Regions from separate parts of the Homo sapiens genome. Here region 1 is linked to region 2. The links come from fine-mapping of genetic effects on gene expression. A gene starts in region 2. The other region holds a variant in brackets. All regions are shown on one strand. Distances are between the middles of the regions. Region 1 has its middle 92 kb from the start of MIR3122. Region 2 holds the start of INTS7 (integrator complex subunit 7).

What was found. PIP is the estimated chance that this variant, and not a neighbour inherited with it, causes the effect. A credible set is the group of variants that fine-mapping cannot tell apart.
Region 1: its variant is the best candidate, but not a certain one, in a credible set for the expression of INTS7 in whole blood (TOPMed, PIP 0.61).

The regions. Positions count from the first base shown.
Region 1 is chr1:212,166,794-212,172,176 of GRCh38, forward strand. No RefSeq gene overlaps it. Among named protein-coding and RNA genes, the nearest start is that of MIR3122, 92 kb to the left of the region's middle. The variant A/G (reference allele first, on the strand shown) is at 2,459.
Region 2 is chr1:212,032,830-212,038,212 of GRCh38, forward strand. It overlaps INTS7 (integrator complex subunit 7), which reads right to left and starts at 2,728. Exons shown (of 20, transcript NM_015434.4): 1 at 2,515-2,728. The coding sequence starts at 2,608. It overlaps DTL (denticleless E3 ubiquitin protein ligase adapter), which reads left to right and starts at 2,919. Exons shown (of 15, transcript NM_016448.4): 1 at 2,919-3,113. The coding sequence starts at 3,062. RefSeq lists enhancers at 2,579-2,788, 2,667-3,203, 2,949-3,188, 3,204-3,738.

The sequences.
Region 1 (5,383 bases), 130 kb after region 2:
CAGGGATTACAGGTGCTTCCCCTCCAGTAAATTAAACCCCTAATAGCAGAAGTAAAGGAAGCACATGTACACTCACACACAGACTGAATATAATACTGGCCCCCAATCAAAAATCATCAGGAAGTCAGACTTCAAGGCAAGCCCTCTGTCCTGAAACGACTCTTTCATGATCAGATAGCACAGGTATCAAAGAGAAAAGACAGAGATGGAGCTTTTGCAAGTTCCTGAACCCAGAAGCCATGGGGTTCTGAAAGACCAGCTGGAAACTGGATGAATTAATATCTGAATAGTTGAATAAACAAACCTGAGCTAGCCTTGCAGACTGAGTAGGATTTCTGTATGTGAGAGGGAGAAGGAGTGGAATTCCCATGGGAAGCAACCCAATTAAGGATCTAGAGCAAGCCACAAGCACGCGAGAACGGTATGACAGAACCATGGCTGCATCTGCTGCACTGGGGGTGACCTAGGTCAGGGCCGTAGCAGAGTCACGTCTCCAGGCAGCACCAGGCTGTCAGCGCTGTTTGGCAATGCAGCTGTGTGTCAGTTTCCTCCTTCATCCCTCTGTGGATATTCAGACTCCCGCCTCTCAGTGGACAGCCTTGCTGGCTTCAGTGATTAACATCAAGGCTATCAGTCATGAACTTCCTCAACCTCCTGTTTCTGCACCTACAAATTATTGTATTTATACCTACTCACAAATTCTTTCTTCCCCAGTCACAGGAAGAGATGTCCTATTAAAGACTAATTCCCCACACCACATTCATGCTTTCCTTTTTCCTCACAAAAACATCATTACTGCCGGGTGCAGTGGCTCACGCCTGTAATCCCAGCACTTTGGAAGGGCGACACGGGCGGATCACAAGTTCAGGAGATGGAGACCATCCTGGCTAACACGGTGAAACCTCGTCTCTACTAAAAATACAAAAAATTAGTCGGGCGTGGTGGCGGGCGCCTGTAGTCCCAGCTACTCAGGAGGCTGAGGCAGGAGAATGGCGTGAACCCGGGAGGTGGAGCTTGCAGTAAGACGAGATCGCGCCACTGCACTCCAACCTGGGCGACAGAGCAAGACACTGTCTCAAAAAAAAAAAAAAAAAAAAAAAAAAAATCATTACATCAGTTGTCACCCTCGACTCCTTTCAGGATCTTTCCCAAAAACTGTGAATAGGAAGTCTCATCATGAGCACATGAAACATTAATCCTATACCCTGTAGCTATTGCCCAATTCTATGGCTTAAATGGGTCCCTTCCAAAAATCAGGTGTTGTCAATGTGATAGAATTAAGAGGCATGGCCTTTAAGAGATTATTATGCTATGAGGGCTCCTCCTCTTGAATGGGATTAGGTATCCTAATAAAGGGATTCGAAGAGGAAATTGGTTCTCTCTTGCGCTTCTGCTTTCCACGTGAGGATGCAGCAAGAAGGCCCCCAAAAGGAGCCAGCATCTTGATTTTGGACTTCCCAGCCTCTAGCACGGTGAGAAACAAATTTCCTTTCTTTATAAATTACCCAGTCTGTGGTATCCTGTTATAGTAGCACAAAACAGACTAAAAATGCCTTTTCTTTCTCTTTCCTTTAACAGAAAAGCTTATTTTTTGTTAAATACTGTTTCACATTTTTCTCTACTTATAAAAGTAGTATACGTTCATTACAGAATATTTAGAAAACAAAGAAATATTTAGAAACAAAGAAAACTGTACAGAAAAAAAAAAAACCAACTTTGTAACCCTGCCACTCATTTTGGAATCTCTCCACCTGAGGAGACATATATATATATATATATATTTTTTTTTTTTTTTTTCAGATGGAGTCTTGCTCTGTCCCCCAGGCTGGAGTGCAGTGGCATGATCTCGGCTCACTGCAAGCTCCGCCTCCTGGGTTCATGCCATTCTCCTGCCTCAGTCTCACGAGTAACTGGGATTACAGGTGCGTGCCACCACACCCAGCTAATTTTTTTGTATTTTTAGTAGAGACAGGGTTTCACCGTATTAGCCAGGATGGTCTCGATCTCCTGACCTCGTGATCCACCCACCTCAGCCTCCCAAAGTGCTGGGATTACAGGCATAAGCCACAGCGCCCAGCCTCACCTGAGGATATTTTGTTTCTATGTGTATATATCTACATTCAGCATTTAATAGCTAACATTTTACTGAGCACTTTCTGTGTGCCAGGCTAACCACCACCCAGTGAGGGACTTTACCATGGCTGCACATCCTGTCAGTGGCCTAGTCAGGATTTGATCCCAGGGAGTCTGGCTTCAGAGGGTGAGATCTTAATCCTGCTCCTTATGCCTCTAATTTATACCAGAATTGGAATCATATAGTATAGGTAATGTTTTATATCCTGCATTTCACTTAGTGTTATATTCTAAGTATTTCTCAATATCACAAATTATGTTTTGTAAATGTAATTTCTAAGTTAGTATCACACTTTTCAATAGGATAGCTTGTCCTCTTCCATTC[A/G]GTTGTCAAACCATTGATTTTTGCCCTCACTTCTCACCACTCAACAGAAACAGATCCCAGAAGGATCATAGGTGACCTCTTCGAGGCTAACTCCATTGGACATGTTATAACCCTTCTCTTTCTTGACTCCTCAGGAATATTTGACACCATTGTACTCTCCTTCTTTCTGTCATCTAGTCAATATTTATTGAGCACCAGCAGAAACTTCCTCCTCTATCCATTTCCAAGACATGCTTTTCTTTGGTTTCCCTTTCTTTCCCTGGCCATGTTTTCTTAGCCTTTAAGTTCCTGGTCCTCAGTCCACACTTGAAGTGTGGGTTCCCCTGAGAGCCCCATGTCGGGGTTTTCACCAGCATTTTTCAGCCCTGACTGTGGCTAGGAATCACTGGAAATAACTGCCTAAAGTATTCAGAGTGGGGAGTGGGCTTCAATATTTTGAAGATGCTTCATGTCTTCCACTCAGTCTTTGCTTTTCCTCCTGTGTTCCCTATGTCAGAGAATAGCATACATCTCCACCCACTTACTTAAGCAAGGAAGCTTGCCTTCTTCCTCTCTCCCAATCAATCACTGTGTCCTGTTGATTCTACCACCTTATTATTTTTAAATGTTTCTACATCTCTCTATCTCCATTGTCATTACCTGCATTCAGCCCATCATCAGTTCTTACCTGGATTACTAAAATGCCCTTGTAGTTGACCCTGCCTCCAATCTTGCCTCACTCCAATCCTTAGGTTGTTGCTGTTTCACACTGAAAACAGCTTTCTTGTTTTTTTTTTCTGATTATGTAAATACTATAAGGTCAATATAAAAATGAAAAGAATCATAAAAATAAGAGGGAGAAAGAAATGATCACCTGAAATCCCACCGCCCTGAGATACCCTCATTCTTCCACTTTTTGGTGATTATCCTTTCATGCACTTTTTATGTTGATCAGTCATATGAGAAAACGGTCTGAACTTTGATCTTCATTGGGATTCAGATATCAGAGAGTGGCGCTGAAGGAGGAACAATTTTAATTAGGGACAAAGAAGGCCTAGAAAGAGGGTATGTATAATCGTAAACAAGTGTCATAATCTAATTGCTGTGGTTTGAATGTGTCCCCCAGATTTCATGTGTTGGAAACTTCATCCCCAATGTGGCAGTACTGAGAGGTTTGGGCCTTAAGGGATGAATGGATCGTGAGGGCAGAGCCATTATTCATGGATGAATGGATGAATGGGTTAGTGGATTAAAGTGTTATCATGGAAGGGGAACTGGTGGCTTTATAAGAAGAGGAAAAGGGGCCTGAGCTAGCATCTTAGCATGCTAAGCTCCCTTGCGATGTGATATCCTGTGCCACCTTAGGACTGTGCAGTCTCCACAAGCTATATCTTCAAAGTCATACAATGACTATAAAAGCACCAGCCATACATCCTTTTCAGGTAAGAAATGGGGAAGACCAGGGGCCAGAAAGAGCTTCACCTAAACTTCATCCAAATACTCCATCCAAAACTTCCACTTAAATTTCATTGGCCATTCCTATCTGCAAGAAGAGACACGTTTGAGCACATTGCTACCCCTAATGATGGAGGTTCTCTTAGTAAGGAAGAAAGAAATAATAGATTTAGGTAGGCAGCTAGCAGGCTGTACCTAAACACACACACAAACGGTTTTAGGGTTTTTGTTTTGCTATTGGTAGATGTCATCATTTTCCGAAAATTGGTTCAGAGTACATCTATACCTTTGCATACAGCTTTCCCCCACTTAATCACATTTCATCGAAATCTCTCCAAGTCCATTAATATAGATCTAACATATATTTAAATGGCTACACAATTCCCCATGTATAAGCACACTGTAATTTATTCATTCATTCCTCTAATGATGGGCTTCACTTGGTTTTCAGTGTTTCGCCAACTACAAACAATGCAGCAATAAGCACCTCTGTACATGCATTTTTTTTGTATTGGTGCTTTTATTTCTATAGAGTAGATTCCCAGCAGTGGGATTGCTAGGTTGAAGGGCAAATGTATTAAAATTGTATAGTCTTTGCCTGATTGCCAAAAGGTTTGTAGCAACTCATACTGCACCCAGCAATATATGAGTACCTATTTCCTTCTCATTCTTACCAATAGTAGATGTTTTCCCTCTTAATTTTTACCAATCTGAAGGGTATAAAGTGATATTACGTTATTACCTTAATTTTCATTTCCCTGATTGATAGTCATATTGAGCATCTTTTAAATCTACTTATTGGCCAGGCATGGTAGCTTATGCCTGTAATCCTCACACTTTGGGAGGCCAGGGAGGGTGGATCGCTTGAGCTCAGGAGTTCAAGACCAGTCTGGGCAACATGACGAAACCCCATCTCTACCAAAAGTACAAAAATTAGCTGGGCATGGTGGCCCACGCCTGTGGTCCCAACTACTTGGGAGGCTGAGGTGGGAGGATCACTGAAGCCCAGGGAAGTGAGGCTGCAGTGAGCCATGATCGTGCCACTGCACTCCAGTCTGGGCAACAGAGGGAGACCTAGTCTCAAATAAATAAATAAATATTGGACACTTAGAATTTCTCTTCTATGAATTACATTTCATTCAAGTCATCTATTTCTACTAGTTTTGTCTTTTCTAATCAATTTCTGAGAGTTTTTGTGTATTATGAATATTAATCATCAATTAATACAGTATAATTAGCATTCTAGCATACTACATAAAAACTTTATTGGCTGTTCTTTGCCTACAGAATAAAGTCCAGGTTTTTTAACAAAATGAAGTATGTTGTCTGGGCAGGAGATGGTGTTCAGATGCCTTTGATAGGGACAGTTAGGCAACTCCTTTCTCCCCATGTGTCCATTTACATACATCGATTTACACAGAGATTAAACAGTATGGTCTATGAGGAAAAGGTCTGAACCTTGTTTTGGTTGGACTTCAGTCATCTGATGGA
Region 2 (5,383 bases):
TGCATGCAAAGGAGGCTTCTACCTCAGGGCCTTTGTACTTGCTGTTCTTCCACTTGATTGAGGAGGTCTTTCTTGCCTATACTTCATAAAATAAGAAATCAACTCCAGCCCCAGATCAGTTTTCTCCAGTCCCTTTCATTGCTTCATTTTCCTTTATAATATGTATCACTAACTGTCACGTTTGCTATATTTGCGGAGTGTCTGCATCTGCTGTCTAGAATGTAAGCTCTATAGGGGCAGGAGTTTTGTCTCATTAACTGCCATGTTCCTAGTACAAAGCCCGATCAAATAAGTCATGTGTCTGAGTGTGTATGCTGAGGTGGGGGAGATATTTCAGAAACAGTATTCCTTGGAGTTTGGGAACGAAAAAAAGAGTTGGAACTTGTAGCCTTCTGACCTTTAGCTCACAAAACAGAAATACTTTAACAGGTACAAGATGAAATGACTCAATATTTAAAATACTCAACTATATTCTACACGAAACTGGCTATTTCTATAACTTAATTTCCTAACAGCTTTAAAAGTTACTACAGATGAGATGAAAAAGAACAAGTCATCTTTCTGAGCCTGAGATTCACCTGTAAAACACTCACGCCAGGCATTGCTGGGAGGAGTGCAAATGATCACTTACTCTGTGTCTAAGATTGACACCTGATTTCTTTCCTATAGATATAAAATATTTTCATTTCAACTCTTCTTTAAAAAGGAAAAATTGTGGTTTTTTTCTTACAACTGCAAAATTTGAGGAATTAAACCATTCTAGACTCCTCTTCAGTGCCCCATCTTTATCCCTGTTCCACAACCACTATCCTATTGTCAGCATGAGACAAGCTCAGCTGCACCAGAATGGTAGAAAATGTCCTTAGAACTCGTAGGGATATTAGATATTATCCTGACCTGTAACTTTCACTGAGGAATAAGAAAGAAATGTATCAGAATGAGGAGGAAAGTGTTTGAAAAACACATTTAAGGCCGGGCGCGGTGGCTCATGCCTGTAAATCCCAGCACTTTGGAAGGCCGAGGCGGACGGATCACCTGAGGTCAGGAGTTGGAGACCAGCCTGGCCAACATGGTGAAACCCCGTCTATACTAAAAATACAAAAATTAGCCGGGCGTGGTGGCGGGCGCCTGTAATTCCAGCTACTCGGGAGGCTGAGGCAGGAGAACCGTTTGAACTCGGGAGGCGGAGGTTGCAGTGAGCCGAGATGGCGCCACTGCACTCTAGCCTGGGCAACAGAGCAACACTCTGTCTCCAAAAAAAAAGAGAAAAACACATTTAGTATTATACTTTTTTTTTTCAGAGGAGAAAACCCCTAAAGATTTGGTAAGAGAAGGAAAAGTTCAACATAATTTTCTTGGTTGATGGGGGTGCACTAAAGATACTGAGACTCAACCAAAGGAATATCCCATTAGGGGGCTGTGAAATTTTTGTGTTTATCAAAATAAGGTAAAAGCTTTTTTAAGAGCCTGAGAAACTCTTATTTAGACTAACCCACTAAAAATATTCACAGTTTAAAAAATAAACAGAAAAAGAGTCCCAAAAAAGTTAATAGACATGTCCAACTCAGAAAACTGGGAAGTGGCTCAAACCCTTCTGAGTTCTAGTCCAGTTCTCCAACATTATATATTGGCTACGATTAATCAAGATTTAATTGTATACCAGCTGCCGAAATGTTTCCCGTACAATAAAAATCCTCAATATGAAATAAAGGTTTCATATTACTAGTCGAGTTCTTTACTAACAAATTTCCGACCTTGCCTCCCATATCCACATCTAAGAAGGGAGGTATATCTCTTCAGCATTTACTAAATGCTTCTTTTGCATACCATTAAGTCACTTAATACAATTCTGCCGGCTCAATGGTACTGTACCCACTTTGCAGACGACAAGCCGAGGCTAGATGAAGTTAATCATAAAATCAGCGGCATTGAAACTTAACTCAGTGTAACCCCAAAGCTCCCTCTACACCAAGCTGCTCCCTGTACGGCAACAGAACTCCTGGAACTTGTCCGCAGAGAATGAGCAGGGCCCTTGCTTTTTTATGGTCTTGGCCAGGTTTAGCCTGCCTTGTAACCCGCAGGTAACAGAGCTATGGAAATCAAATGAATCGCTGTCAAGTCGGTGCAAGATTACTATTCAGCACATTTCATGAAGACCTGGTCTCAACTGAACAGACTGAAAACCAATTTCACAATTTCTTTGCAGTGTCTCTTAGAAACTAGCCACTGTCACTGCTTAGAAAATCGGGGGACTGCTCCCTCAAGTGGTCAAAACGGGCCTCTCACTAGAGCTCGCTACTTGTTTAGCCGGTATAAGGCCAGTCACACAATCCTGCAAATTTCCCGCAACCTCCCGAAGGGGTCAAAGCCCACGCCCCAGCAAAAGCACAGGCGCTCCCCGCCCAGCGAAGACATGCGCATGCGCCTATCCGTCTTCTCCCAAAGCAACCACCACCTGGTGGCGCCACTTCCCCCCACGCCTGTTTCACCCATTCAGCCCTCTCTTTCGAATACCTTTGTCCAATTCCATAAGGGCAGAGTTGGCATCCAGTTCCTGTTCGCCATAGCCGGCATCTGCCAGGAAAGACTTAGTTGAGTTTGACGCCATGACCCGAATAGTTACTCGACTAGCCTAGTCAGAAAGCTTGCAAACTCTACCCCAGGACCGCCATCTTCCCCCGCCGCCTTCTTGCTGGTTTTTCTTCCGCGCGCTGTCAAGCCCTGTTACGCATGCGCCCTGGTCACCCCGCGGTTTGTCCGCGCCTCTGCTACCCCCTGCGCAGGCGCTCAAGGAGCTCTTGGACTCCAGGTTCCCGCGGCTGGGAGAAAAGGAGGCGGGGATCCGAAGGGGGAAATGACTCTGAGGCGCCCGGACGTCGCTCGGAAGCCAATCAGAGAGCGTGACGTCAGTTTGGCGCGGAGTTTGGCGGCCGGGGCTTACAGTGGCGGGAGTTGGAGGCGATAACGATTTGTGTTGTGAGAGGCGCAAGCTGCGATTTCTGCTGAACTTGGAGGCATTTCTACGACTTTTCTCTCAGCTGAGGCTTTTCCTCCGACCCTGATGCTCTTCAATTCGGTGCTCCGCCAGCCCCAGCTTGGCGTCCTGAGAAATGGTGAGTAACGGTCCCAACCGCTGCTCGGAGCTGGCGGAATTCATTTCCCCCGAAACACACGCCACCTCCGACCAGGGCCGACTCCAATTCTGAACTCAGCTTCTGAGTTCTCCCATGGCAAGGGTAAATTAGTGTTAGCAGGGACTACTAAAGAAAGCTGTACTTTCATCCCCTCGGGACACTTGTAATCGTAATCGGGCTTTTAAAATCGTAACGTAGGCAGGGACGTCGAAATAACTGCCTTCCAAGGCCCCTTACAGCTTACATCTCCATTGCGCGTTAACGGGAAAATGCATGCATTTGTGTGTATATGTTTCCTTCAACGGTTATTTGAGATGCTCAAAACTCCTAATCATTGATTAATTCATTCGTTTGTTGTAGAATCTTAGTGAGCCCAGCTATGTGCTATAGGTATATACCAGTGAATATGACCCGCTGTTAAGGAACTCAGTCAAGCAGAGAAGACAGGATATCTGCTTCTAACAGGAACAAAATCTTATTTTCCCCGTTTACTACACGGTCATAAAAATTTAAATTATAGAGTGAAAGATGCCTGTAACCACATCCGCCAGAGATGACCCCTGTTAATAGATTGAAGTATATTATTCCAGATGTTTTCGACGCTAGAGGTAATACCTATTATTTTCAGAAATCGGATCAAAACGTCCAGTTTTTTCACTTTAATGGTATAAGTTGAACGTATTCCCATGTTAATACGTAGAAATCTAACTTATTTTCTTACGCTAAAACATTGGCAATAAGAGATTTGAGGTTAGATTTGGATGTCATCAACTTAAACTTTTTGGTAAGTTTCAGATAAGGGAGCTAACTACCCAGATTAACCTTGGACAGAAATAAAATCTCACTCATGTGAAGGTCGACTATAGCCAGAGGTTCTTTTTCCCCTTGAAACTATGTGGAAAACGAACCTGAGAAGGGAATTTTTATATTCAGCGATGAGTCTAGGAAAATAATATTGAGAAAGAGACTGAGAAGTAGTCCCTCAACTTCCTGCTAGCAGTCTGAAACTTTATACCATCCTTATTTATTTCCCTCTTAGATAATCTTTGTAATTATACTTAAATGCTCCTCTTTCTGTCTCTCCTGGGACCTTGTTTGAGTAACTTCTTTGTCCTCTGTTTAAGAGTGACAGTACGCACAGTGGCTAAGAACTCTGTCTTTGAAGTTAAACTGCCTGGGTTTTATTATACTTCCACACCTTACTATATGTGTGTTCTGGGGGAGCTGTTCAGCCTCTATTTTGTGACAGATTTTCTCCTAATTCTCCATGTGTTTACCTTTCCCTTCCCTCTTTCCTATTCTCAAGTACTCATTCGTTGTTACATAATAGTCACTGAAATTCATTCGTTATTATATGAAATCTATAGAATCATCTCCTTTCCTCTTCAGTGTTGGTGTTCCATCCTTGACCCCTTTTCTTCTTCTACCTACTCCTTTGGATGATCACAGCCACAACCAGGGCTTCTTCCACTTCTACATACATACAACCTTCTGTTACTTATATAGTAAGTCCTCACTTAATGTCTAGATAGGCTCTTGGAAACTGTGACTTTAGGGAAAACAGTGTATAACTAAACTAACTCTACCATAGGCTACTTGATATAAATAAGAATTGTTTCAGTGGCATATTTTGGTCACACAAACACCACCGAACTTCTAAAGAAAGACTCAAAGTACTTTTAATATTAAATGTTGAAATAATTGTGTGCTATACATATATTTGAGAAAGATTAATAAAAACAGGTGAGATAATTATCCAAGTTTTGGTGTATCAGCGAGTGACCTCGGTCATAGTGGTGGTGGGCTAAATCAAGGAATAAATGTTTGCAAAGTGAAAATTGGAAGGAGCACCTCCTACCACCACCCAGGTCAAAAACAATCACAAATATGGCAGCTCACTGAGCCCTTTCATACCAAATCGTTTATTGTCATTCATTTGTATGATTATTGTAAAGTTTACCCATTTTTATTTTACAATGATTTGTATTCATTCATTTTCTGACACACTTATTCCAGCTCAGGGCTGTGGGTGCCCGGAGCCTATCCTGGCAGCTCATGGTACAAGGTGGAAACCAGCTCTAGACCAGACACTATTTCATCACAGGAAGCACTCACACACACTCATTGTCTACTGGGACCATGTAGACACACCAGTGAACCTAACATACACATCTTTGGCATGTGGGAGGAAACCAGAGTACCTGGAGAAAACCCCTATGAACATGGGAAGAGCATGTACAAACTCCACA